2 linked regions of the Homo sapiens genome follow. The protein of the gene in region 1 interacts with the protein of each later gene in a pairwise test. Each region holds a gene or a part of one and is shown in the gene's direction. Other genes may lie near its edges. The genes, in order: UTP25 and TRIM9.

Region 1 (6,181 bases):
ATCTTAATTTTGGATGGCATGGGTTTTGTAAAACTTATTCTGCCCCAGCCAAACTTTTTTGAAACCTTAAATAGTCTACCTTAATTCAGCCTAGAAGAGTACATTGATTTACTGATCTTTTTTCATATTCATAATACTAAATGTTTTAGTTTTGTTCAAATATATGCTTAAAATCACGTTATTTAAAAAACACATCAGCTCTGTCTCAAGAAGTAATTTTGTTGAAACTCCATGTTAAAATATCCATCTTCAACAGTAGTGTCTTCATAATAACTAGTCATTTTTTCAGTCATAAACAGATGCAAATAAAAAGGAAATTACACTTTTAAAAACATTTTTATTTTGAAACATTCTCAAACAGAAAAATTCCAAGTACAGAACCTGAACCATTTGAGAGTGAGTTGCCAACCCAGTGGGCCTATCACCTTTAAATACTTTAGTATATATTTCCTGTAAACAATTAAGGGTATTGTTTGTGATTAGGAATGCCCCACCAATAAGGATAATGTGAATATTTCAGAATCCAAAAAAATTCGAAACACGTCTGGTCCCAAGCATTTCAGATAAGAGATATTCAACTCATCCTAGTATGGACTCGTAGTTTCTTCTTTTATTCAATGGGTTACGGTTTGTTACATCATTATTTCTTTAGATGCGTAACTGGTCTCAAATATGGCCGCTGGGAGCACCTTCAGGTTAGCCCCTGTGTACTTTTGACATGTCCCCCATCTACTTGGGCACTGCTGTATTTTTTGACAATGAGACATTCCAGGTTTCTCTACTCCAGCCCTGCTTGCTTTTAGTAGGAAATTATTATAAAAGGTTAGATTGGAGTGCTTACTATTGTGGTGCCACTCATCCCAGGCTCAGTGGTCAGAACTTGGGAATTGTGTACATGTATGCACACACATATGTACACACGTTGTCTAAATTTGCTTCACATTAATATCTAAATTTACTTTCATATCCATATATTGAAAACCATGAATTCACACCAGTACCTCCAATTCTAGTCCAACAACACAGGATTGCTTCTCATTTTCTTTCCATATTGATAACTCCTTTCTCAGACAGTGGCTCCCATTATCCTCAATGTAATAACCCATGATTGGTACAGATTTTTTTTATCCTTGGGCACGCTTAAAATTACTTAGCAAAAACAAAAAGTAAAATCAGTTTTGAAGTAATATTTCTGCTAAATATTTAGACATTTTTACTTCTTTTTCTTCAGCATGGTAAGTAAAACCATTTATTCCATATTTAGATGGTTTTCTAAATTTCAGAAAATTTAGTTAGATAAAAGCCGACCGAACCCATGCTACAAAGAACTTTTTGTATCTATAGGCATGCCCTGTGGTTACTGGCGTAATTGTGCTGCTGTTTATCATAGATCCTGTATATTATGAGAATAAGAAATGAGTTTATTTACCTCATTCAGAAATGTGAGGCGAAGGGACTGTAATTACCTGGATCTTTTTTTTTTTTTTTGAGATGGAGTCTCGCTCTGTTGCCCAGGCTGGAGTACACTGGCATGATCTTGGCTTACTGCAATCTGTGCCTCCCGAGTTCAAGCGATTCTCGTGCCTCCGCCTCCCAAGTAGCTGGGACTACAGGCGCATGCCACCATGCACAGCTAATTTTTTATATTTTTAGTAGAGATGGGGTTTTGCCATGTTGGCCAGGCTGGTCTCAAACTCTTGACCTCAAGTGATCTGCCCACCTCAGCCTCCCAAAGTGCTGGGGTTACAGGCCTGAGCCGCCACGCCTGGCCAATTACCTACATCTTTTTCTACTGCCATATTCTTTTGCCTGTGAATTGTAGTTCATCTCGTGGTTTCCATTATTACTATTCACACGACTCCCAAATCTCCAGCTTCTCTGGCTCTCCACTCACATGTGAGTCTGGATTTCAAATCCATGATGTAGCCCCAGAAATAACCATTTTATTAAGCACCCCTAGTGATTTTCATGCTGGCATAGAGCCAAACCCAGCCAACTGCTTCTTGCCTGCAGAGAACACTGAGGATTTCAAGTGTGAACAAAGTAGTGTTGCTTTGTTCCTGGCTCAGCACCTGAAAAGAAGGTAAGCCTCTGCAGTTAGCCCTGGCTCCTTAGTGCATTGCAGAGTGGAGTCTCTGCAATGGTTTTATTAAAAGGATGCCTTGAAGATCTGGTCTCTCTCAACACACAATAAGCGAGAAGAGAGGCTACTGAAATACGGATGCGTGAGCTGGAATTACACACTACCTTGATGTTAACAAGGCTCATTTGCAGCAAGCAAGTGCCTATATAGGGTCTGAAATATAGACAAAGGATGGTCCCAATCCTGGAAACAGTGGAATTAAAAGGTATGGAAAGGAACTTACCCAGAAAGTAACACTTTTAAATGTTTTTTCTTTTCCCATAGTTAAAACAACCAGCTTAGCACTTTTCTTTTTGAGAGAGAAAAAGCTTTGAATCGTGGATGCTTCTCACAGCTGGCTGCACCACGTGCAGTGTTCAAAAAACAAGAACAAGCTAATCATAGAGAACCAGCAGCAGCTAAACAGCCCTCTGCTTGCTTCCAAAGGGCTTATAATTGAGCACAGATGGTCCTAGTGGAGATGGGGAATGTGTCCCTGCTGACTCCTCATACCCCAGAGGACCAAGGGGGGCTCATGAAGGCTCTCAGCCCTGATTGTGCCCTCGTGAGGGCAAGGAGCTATGCTGCTGAAGGAGGAAAGGGAAAGGCAGGTGGGGCCAGACCCTATTGGCCATCTGACCAGCCTTCCCAAGCCCACGTGAGCAGATCTAGGGTCTCAAGATTACAGAAGGCCTGGGGTGAGGGAGCAAGAGTTGGAAGTTCTTTATAGTTGTCTGAAGAGCCTCATTGTCCAACTGCAGGGGCCTGAGGTGCCCAAAGCTTCGTGGAAAAGTAATGTCAGTGGAATGCTCAGAAGTGGCTCTTTTCAGGGCACGGCTTCTGAGGAGCGTGGGGCCACCACAGCTAGCCCTCCCTCCGTCTAGCCATCCTCTCCTTCCAGTCCCTTTCCCATCTTTTCTCTCAAAGGAGCATGGTAGTGATCTTCATTACCAAATTTCTACTCCACACTTATTTTAAAAAGCTTTTCTGAAAGCCTGGCTACATAGAATTCTAAACAGATTTCAGTCAACTTTTAATTAGAGTCAATGAATGGGGAGTAAATACACAGATAATCCAAAATTGATGTAAGCATTGGAAGGGGAAAGAGGGAACGCTTCTTTCCCTCTGGGCTTGGTCATTTCCTCCCAAGCAAACCCCGCGACGTTCAGCCGTCTTCCTCCTATGCCACGTGCTCTCACCAGAACTGCAGCAAAACTGCATTTTATGTCCTGTGTCTAAAGCTAAACACATGTTCCTGTCTACTTTTGCTTTGTTCCTGTTTCCCTTCTGTGAGGACCTTCCCCTCCTCAGATGTGGGGAGTTGCCGCCTCCACTTGCATTACATGTATTTCAGAGTAGGTCCTAGGCTCCCCTTACACCTCTGGTCACGTTGCCATTATTCCTATGGTAGATAAAGGGGATGAGAAAGAACAGAGCTCCAGGCCTTTTTCAAACAAACTGGTTTTCTCAGTATAGCCCTATGCTCAAAAGGAGTGAGGACAGGTATGTGACTGCCATAAGGAGCTGTTTGCTTTGCACAGAGAAATCTAATCTTTCTCCTGCTGGGCAGCTCAGTACAGATGTCCCCTCACTGCTGGAAGAAACACCTGCCCTTGCTTGTTCTCCTGATGGCCCCTCACAGTCAGGTGTGGGATGGCACATTTCTAGGTGCTCCTCGCCGAGCTGTCATGGGCTTCAGTCTTGGGCCTCTGCAGCTGGCTGTGACCAGGTGGAAACTGTAGCCTTGGCTGACCCAGAGAAGGAAAGGAGGCAGTCTGCCGCTTGGCTGATTTAGGAGTTGTGCTGAATTCCTGCCCATCTGTTCTCCCAGCTGAGCCAAGGCCAAAGCTGTCTACCTTTTGCCAACCTAAGGAATGACACAGAGCATGGAGCACCATCACTGAAACATCTGCCCCAGTGCCCTGCCACCTTCGTCCTCACTGACCTCTGCAGCCTCTCTCATCTGCCAGTTTTGATTCCGCAAGGAGAGGTGGCCCTGGGCTCACAGCTGGTGTTTGTCCACAGATGTTCATGGGTTTCTTTGTGTTCTCTCATTTTTTCAAAGCTGGGTGTTGGGACCAACATCACCACTGACATTCTGTGGCTCTAAACAAGTCCTCACGACCACTTCTCAGTTTTCTCATCTTTATGAAGTATGGAGTAATCCCCACTAGCCTTATAGAGGGACTGTGTGAGAAGGGAAGAGACTGCTATTGTTTGCCCTATATCCACCTACTTCCCTAGTTCCAGAACGCTGGACTTTAATGAGATAACAAAGTACCTAGTAAAAACACTGCATCATTTTCCATCCCCCACCCCTTGCAGTAAAATGTGGCCCATGAGACAGAAGCACTAACTACTGAGCAGGACTTCTAGGGGAGTTCTTTAAAACTCAGAGGAGCACCACTTTTACCTTCTGCTCTTCCCTTTTTCCTGCCTGGAACGCAGAAGTGATGGCTGAAGCTCCTGAGGCTATAAGCTCTGTACGTAGGAGAGTGGTGAAGAAAGGAGCTTGGTTCTGCAAGGATGTTGTAGAGCTGCCATACCAGTCCTGCATGGTATTCCTGTGCACTACTGTTACGTGAACACACAAACACCTAATTTGTTTAAGCCATTAGGCCAGGCCTCTATTAGCCATTCCTGACTGATACAGAAGACAAAAATGGCATCACAGACTCCTGAACTCCAAAGACACTGCCTATTCTTTCGTCTGTTCTTGGCAAGCACCAACATTGAGACTGTACTTCAGGGTTGATGCTGGCCATTTGGTGGCGTGAGGAGTGGGCACTCACATGTCTCTGCTAGCAGTTCTGACGTGTCCATTCCACACTGGATCCATAGAACGAGGGAACACAAGTGTCTTCTCATAAGATTTATAGAAACAGTGATCGTTGCAGAAAAATAATTAGCAAGAGAACAGACTTCAGCTCTCTGAAGGCTGATGACCACCTGTTTCTCATCTCTTCTAGTGTATGTCAAAGCTAAATTAGGTCAAATAGGAAATAAGTCAGAATCCCCAATTCGATAGAAACTTACAGGTCTTGTGATCTAATCTGCCACTTGATCCGTGAATTACCTATAGGTCATCCCTAAGAGGTGGCCTCCAGCTTCTGCTTGAATTCCTTCAAGGATGGGGTGCTCATTGTGGCTTTTCTAATCATCTCTGATTGTTAGAAACACTGTGAAACTTTTATCCATCAGTCCTGTTTCTGAAGCTGTACGGTACAAATTTTTTTTTTCCCCACTTAAGGCTCAACTATTGGAATACATCTACCATGTCTCCTATGAAACTTGCTTCTCCAGGCCAATCATCCTTACTTCCTTAAACTTTTTTTTTTCCTGAAAAGTTATTCTTTTAATCTTATTAAAAAAGCAACCCATGCCCATTCCACAAATACAAGTGAAATAGTGAAAAACAAAAATCAAACTACATCTATTTGGTGATCATTATTAATGTCTTATGTTTCCTCCCAGATTGTTTTCTGCATGAATAATAACCAACAATGTGTGTGTATGTATATATATGCTTTTGCATTAAAAGGTGGTTTTGAAGGTAACATTTTTTGGAGTACTGATTAAGCGCCAGCAACTCTTCCAAGCTCTTTGCATGTATTACATCAGTTAATCCCTCACACCCGTTTAAGGTAAGCATCCTTATTTTTCCCGATTTCCACACAGGCAGCACAATCCTGAAAACCTACACTGTTTTTACTAGATAATTACTTCTCTAAAAACAAAACAATAAAAGCACTCAATAAATAGTAGTTATTATTACCCTTTTTAATGAAGCAATCCTAATTGTTGAACTCTTAAAAGGACTAAGGGATGGCTCACACCTGTAAATCCAGTGTGTCCGGAATTGGTAGGTTCTTGGTCTCACTAACTTCAAGAATAAAGCCGCGGACCCTCGCCGTGAGTGTCACAGGTCTTAAAGGCTGCGTGTCTAGAGTCTGTTCCTTCTGAAGTTCGGATGCGTTTGGACTTTCTTCCTTCTGGTGGGTTCCTGGTCTCACTGGCTTCAAGAGTGAAGCTGCAGACCTTCGCGGTGTTACAGCTCAC
Region 2 (7,087 bases), on another chromosome or scaffold:
ATTTTGAAAGTTTTCAAAACTTGAGTTCACAGCTAGTTTTTTATTCATATTTTGATTTCACTTTTAAACTGCTAATTATAGTCCATGTTGAATTGCCCTACAAAGTATCCTTGGAACTAAAAAATTAATCACTCTGTCAGGAAAAAGAATTTAGAGCCACAAGGTAATTAGGATGGGTAAACCACAACATTATTATTTTTTTTATGACAAGCCTATCCTTGATCTATTAAGACCAAAAGAAACCTTTAAATCTCTGTCAAGCCCCATGTCAATTTGAAATGTTAAATCATTTGTTTTATTGGCAATAGAAATTATGAGTAGACAGACACTGGTGCTGCCTGGGTTGAGATTTAGATATCTACCTGCCACAAAAGAATGTTAAAACCCTTGAAACATGACATAAGTAGGCTAGAAGACCATTTATTCTCTGATCTTTTGCACATTTTTTCCAAAACAGTAAGGACACATAATTTTTGTTCAGTCAATATGAGGATTACTAAACTGCCAAGAAAAAAAATAAGACAGAAGGATGACAGATTTTAACATTCACTTGTCATCTGTTAGATGAACAACAAACATTACTCCCCCACCTTATTTACTTAATAAGGAAGTTAATGTGTTAGCAGCCAGTTTTCTCATATAGTTTATGTTTTAGTTAATGGTACTTCTATCTCCACAAAAGCCCATGGGCCAGAATTTCTATGCCCTGCAAAAATAGGACAGCAAAGAACTATACTAACTAGGTTTCCAAAATTGGGCAGTTAGTTATCAACACAGGTTATTACTAGACCTGAAAAGTTGTCATTCATATTCTATCATATTAGTCATTTCTACTGATAAAGCAAGTCCTGCAGATAAGTATTTCCCACAGGCATAAATCATCATCTTACACACTCAAGATATAATAAAATGGCTGCAGTTTATTTTTAAAGTGGTATTAAAAACATCTGGTTGAAATTCACTAGTTTTCAACTGGCCAGATTAAAATGTTTTTCAGATATTTTTGGTCTTCAAAACTCCATGAAAAATAATAACACATGAATAATAATAATAATAATAATGGTCTTATAAGTCAAATATTTGGTAGCAGTTTTTATTTAGTGCCAGTACTTAACTATATTCCTTTATTCAACGTACTTGTTAAAAGAATTATAACACCAAAAAAGTGATTTTGTAGATACTTTAAAATGGGCAATAGAAACCACTACTATTACTTTGTGATTTTAAGCAGTTCACATTCCTAAATCCTGATATTATCCTTGAATTCCTGGGGTTTCAATAGTCACTGAATCAGGGCTGGGTGCACTGGATTATGCCTGTAATCCCAGCACTTTGGGAGGCCGAGGCGGTCAGATCTCTTGCGGCCAGGATTTAAGACCAGCCTGACCAGCATGTTGAGACTCCATTTCTACTGAAAAATCAAAAATTAGCTGGGCATGGTGGTGCATGCCTTGTAGTTCCAGCTACTTGGGTGGCTGAGGCAGGAGAATTGCTTGAACCTGGGAGGCAGAGGTTGCAGTGAGCCAGGATCTCACCACTGCACTGTAGCCTGGGTGACGATGCAAGACTGTCTCAAAATAAAAAAATGAAGTCACTGAATCAGTAACATATTTGTAACAATTATTCTGTGTTCATGCTACTGAGCAAAGATTTTCTTTTCCTTTCTATTCTAAACACTATTCATTCTTAATCTTGTCTCAAATGTTATTTTTCTCTTACCTTTGTTTTTATAAATGAAAATTTGCAATTTAAACAATATTTTAAAATAAACTGTCAGTTAATATGCCTTCAATTCTAAAATATCCTGGAGAAAAATATCTGCTTAGCTTTATGGTGGCATCTCATTAAATATTTATGTAGCAAAATGTGTTATATAATGCCACTAAAATGATATTCAGTTAACTATATGTCAGCAGTAAACACAATATAGTCTATATATTCCTGTGGTAAATGTAACAGGCAGCATATGTTCATGTTTTTACATTTCTTTTGATTTACTTCTAGTACAATTAGAACATTCTGTGTGCCATGTAAACATTTTTACAGATATTAAGGAAAATGTTACAGAGAAGACAGTTATTCCTCTTTGTACCCAGGCATAATGGAAAGAACTAGATAACAGGAGATCCAGGTTATAGAACCAATGCTGCCACTTACTTGCAGGAAACTTTTTGCAAGTATCATCACCTGTCTGTACTTCCCACCTACAAAGATATAAGGGAGTTAAAATTACAATTGTGAAAGGATTTTGATAAGGTAAATTAAATGTTTATAATTTACTAATTTCAGTTCAACACAACCATAAACATTCATGTCAAACAGAGTCAATGTCTCACCAGTCAACAATTACTGCGTAAAAATCTCATCCCCCAACTTGGGGTACTTTTCTGGATCCTTTTCAGAGCATAGGGTACAGTCCAAAGCTGCTCTGAAAGGTGGCCTAAAAGAGTGAGACTCTTCCTCATGGGTCCAGAGAGAATATTCAGTTGAATTAAGCTCAAGAAATAAGAATACTATACAAAGATTTATATATTAAACAAAAGTATTCTGTTTTTCTCTAAGTAAGCTGAAATAGCTGATAAGGCTCCGTTTTTTTCAGATTCTCCAATAAAGATATTGTTACCAGTTTGAAGTAGCAGAAATTGTTTCTCCTGTATATGCCATGAAAAGATGCTATTAATTGGAGTTTCAGGTCAAATCACAGTTTGCATAAAGTAAGAGACAATTATCACAGCCATCTGTTCTTGTGTAATGAAAATAATGTACAGGGAACATTTGTCCTTACCATCAGTATGATAAATTGCACTTTCCTCACCTAAACAAGTTGGTGGACTTTTCAAAGTGTATATACACATACAACTTAACTTTGGCCTACAGAAGGATAGAAGAACCTATAACAAGATAAATGTTTAAGAATCAAATAGTTATAAATAAATATCATTTGTTTATCAGTTTTATCAGGGATTATTCATTGAAAGGATCAGAAACCCACTTAGGTGATCTCAGAGGATTTCATGGGAAGTGAAATAAAATCAACTCACAAGGAGAATGGAACTATAAAGCTAGAAACTAAGTTCACTCTCAGCATCAGTCAGGTTGGACTATGCTCCAGTAACAAATCTTCGAATCTCAGTGAATTATAATGGCATCTAATTTCTTACTTATTCATGTCAGTGTCCACTGAGAGTCTTTTTTTTTTTTTCTTTGCTTTAGCTTGTTTGTGTTGGTTTCCTGCCACTTGCAACCAAGAAGTCCTGACTTACAAAAGCATATGAATTAACACATGTAAATACTTTAAGATTCTAATTTTTATTCATCCTAGATATTGTCTTTAGAATATTGTGTTTAGAAGGCTGCATTCTGATGCCATAAATACAAATAGAGGGGCGGTTTTTGATTCAATGAAGCAGAAATCATATCATATTCAATGTTATCTACCCATTCACCACTAGGTAGCTTTTATTAGCCTTTTGGTTATTTTCTTCAGTTATTTTTATTGTGAGGTTTTTCACAAAGAGGCCGAAGAGATTTTTTTTTTTTTTTACCAACTCGAAATTACTCCATGTATGTAGTGATGACACTTTTAAGAACATTAGGCCAGACAGGGAGGTCCTGAAATCGAACTTCTGCCAATAATTGATTTGTTTGTTTTCAAAGGCAAGAAAACCTCTGAAGATATGTATGAGCACTCCACAATTCTTTTTGTTTTATCTATACTCTAGGTCAGCATTTCTCAAACTCTGCTCCCACGAGTTTTCCATAGTTAAATAAGTTTGAGACTCTCCATTCTGAACAGGCTGCAGGTAGTTCACATTGTATATTGTATCAATATGCCTATGTATACACATCCTGCAACAAACAAAGCCACTTGATTCAATGTAGCATTTTCCAAATTTGTCTAACTTTGGAAACTCTGTTAGAGTGCCACACAAGTTTGGAGAACACTAGTTCAGGTAGTTATTAGTGAATAAGTTAGTAAGTAATTGTTATTCATTTCTTGTCTATGTAGATTAGAATACCTAAAACTATGCCTGCAGCAAACCTATCCTTAAATCTTAAATCTTGCATTAATTCTTAAAGCAAATGTTAAAAGTTAAATTTATTTTATTTTTTAAACATTAAAAGTCAAAGAGGTAAAAATAATTAACATAAGTTTTGTAGTATTTATATGTATGGACTGGAATACATGTTGTCCCCCTTTCTATTGTAAATAACTCAAAAAATGATTTTAGGCATGAGGAATATTAATGTAATATAATTTTAAAAACCACCACTTCATTCTACTTTAGACTACTTTTAGGTTTTGTATACATGATACCAAATGACTGGTCTAATTGAGTTTTTCATTAATCTGTGGTATACAAAAATAGATTGTTTTAAAGATACTTTTGATGAGCAGAAAAAGACAATATGAAAAGCTTAAAACTTTAATATTGCTCTGGGGACAACATAGCATAACAACTTATGAAGTAAATGCTTGTTTAATGCATTCCAGGTTTTGCTAATATTTTTATATTGACATTTTGGGTCAATTTTTAACCTTAGAACAAGAGTTATCTATAAAATGGCCACCACAGTGTACCTACACTATCAGAGACCATCTAGGTTTTGTTAAGCAGCATATCTAATTCAGCCCAAAGGACATCTCAAAGCCAAGATCATTCCCCTGGGGTGTTCTCACAACCCTAAACTGGGCCCCTATCCTAAACTGAGACCTAACTCCAAGTGAGATTACCCAAGAAACCTAAGCAAAATATATCTAACAGCAGGTTTTCTTTTTTCTAACTGCATCTGTGTCAGGGAAATCATCATGACATCATTTCACTTTTGTTTGGCCCTGGTTTTGCCTTCTTTTTAAACTATCCAGGCCTAAAGTGCAGCATGTTGGCCATGGGTCTAGTCACAATCCCATCTGCCTGCTTAGCTATCTTCTCCTTGACACCCTCTGACTTTCTCCATAGAGCCCCTCCCTTCCTGTCCACTACGCTTGCCCTCCCCCAGTTTCTTAGACCAAACCTTCAGATCACCAGACCAACTAACCTGGCCACACCCAGTTGAGATGAGTCAGCCTCCACAGCTGTGGACCAGACCAGCCTGCCAACCGGGAACCTGATGCTGCTACCCCACCTACCAGAGTTACACCTGCACCAGCAGTGCCCGCCACCTCCCCCCACCCCAGCTGTGTTTAATTGCAGACACTTTTTTATTAAATAACTGTAGAGAGGGAGTTTTCTTCATTTTGGCTGATTCATTTTAAGCTGCAAAAGCAAGAAAACTTTTTTTGAGTGTCTAGTCATGAATAAATAAACATCATTTACTTTTCCCCCCTCCTCAACACGCCTGTCTCAAGAAACTCATCCACTCCGTGGTTTCAATTCCTGCTTGTACCTGATTGTCTGAAACAGATCTGGTCATTTCAGTCCCCTTCCTCTTCACAGTTTGGTCCCAGACTCTCTTCCCAGCCCTGTCACCTGTTCAGCTCACCCTCCTCCATAGCGTCCATATCTGTATTCTAACCCTGAGCATCCTCCCACTGTATTATAATTGCTTCTGTGAGAAATCTTCCACTGAACCCTAATAACTCAATTCCATAGACTGTTTCTTATCTATCTTCTTTTACTCCGTTTCTGTACTTAGTAGAAGTTAGATAAAGGTTGGTTCAATGAAGAAAATAATCAGTAGAGGAAGACTAATAACTAGCAATATAACCCGGTATTTTAAATTTCTCAAATTAGCCTGACAGTAATCATTAAATTTGAAAGCCTGTATTTTATACTTTTTGCTAAAATGTACTGGGCACTTACTACATGCAGGCACTGCTCTAAAGATTTTTACAGCATTTTCTCATTTAATCTTCATAATCCACACATCTTCCTGTGAGAAAACTGGAACACAGGAAGATTATGAAGTCACACCCGTTGTAATTGGCAGGGTCAGAGTTTGAATCCTGGCTGTCTGACTCTACAACTCACATGTTTAACTGCTGTTCTGTTCTACTTTCTGATAAGCCCAGGAAGCATACCTATAAAGCACAGTTTTATGAACTTACAAACTTCAATGACATAACAAATAGCTGGACTCCTTTAGTTCTCGTATATGAAAATTACTGAGAAATTGAGTCATTTTTCTCCTAAGATTCCTTGTGACAAAATAAATTTAGAAAAGAAATTGTGGTGCATGAGGAAAGAGGTGACAAGTATGTTGAATATTCCACAGACCAGATCATCGGAGGTATAGGCCTAATTACCTTACCTATATAATTACCTTACCTGACAGAGATGGGGTTCATCCTGCTTCTCTGTCAGAACTAAGTAACAAATAGACAGTAAGATTTTACCAGCTCAACCATGGAGCATTGTCTCTCTTCTAACAAAATAATGCATCCCAAAATTTACAGACATAAAAACCATAAACTAATAAGTAGATTTTAATAATTACAGACCAAAAAAACCATAAACTAATAAGTAGATTTTAAAAATAAAAATCCATAGGCATTTTAAGTATCTTTATTTCTACACATCTAAACATTTATAAGTCCATTTTTGAAAACACAAAACATGTTTAAATCTGTAAGCAAGTATCTGTTTACTTTCAGTTTTTTCTTGTACCTTTTGCCTATGTGGTTAAAAGAAAATATGCGTATTCCAGTTCAGAATAGAAAGCTGATCCACCTTTCACCATATAAAAAGGAATATGTGAACCGAGGAGGATATCGTTTAAGAATGGATTTAAACACTGCCAAATAAAACTGTTTTTCATAGCCTTGCATAGAAGCAGAACTGCGTGTTTTATACTAACAGTTCTGATCAAAGAAGAAACTGTCCCTTTTAAAGAGCTGGCTTTGGAAATAGAATGCTAAACATTATTCTTTGGTGCGGGAATAGCCACCTTCTGTCAGGAGTACATGTAGATGGTTAATTCTCATCCACCGCTGATTTATTCATGTGACACTGACTTTCTAGCTGGGTAGCATCAGTCAGTTTTATTGAGGTTTTTGCTCATCTCCTCTTACTCTTACTTTGCTTGCAGCCTGCACTTTAAGAAGTAACTGTGTGGCACCAAATATTCATCACTTACTCCCATGCTC

The links.
Region 2: the proteins of UTP25 (region 1) and TRIM9 interact in binary tests that used the Homo sapiens proteins (3 or more experiments, as listed by UniProt).

The regions. Positions count from the first base shown.
Region 1 is NC_000001.11:209,851,887-209,858,067, forward strand, and holds the end of UTP25 (U3 small nucleolar RNA-associated protein 25 homolog), read left to right. Parts: 3' UTR 1-5,679; downstream 5,680-6,181. UniProt on the Homo sapiens protein: Component of the ribosomal small subunit processome for the biogenesis of ribosomes, functions in pre-ribosomal RNA (pre-rRNA) processing. Essential for embryonic development in part through the regulation of p53 pathway.
Region 2 is NC_000014.9:51,085,104-51,092,190, reverse strand, and holds part of TRIM9 (E3 ubiquitin-protein ligase TRIM9), read left to right. Parts: intron 1-7,087. UniProt on the Homo sapiens protein: E3 ubiquitin-protein ligase which ubiquitinates itself in cooperation with an E2 enzyme UBE2D2/UBC4 and serves as a targeting signal for proteasomal degradation.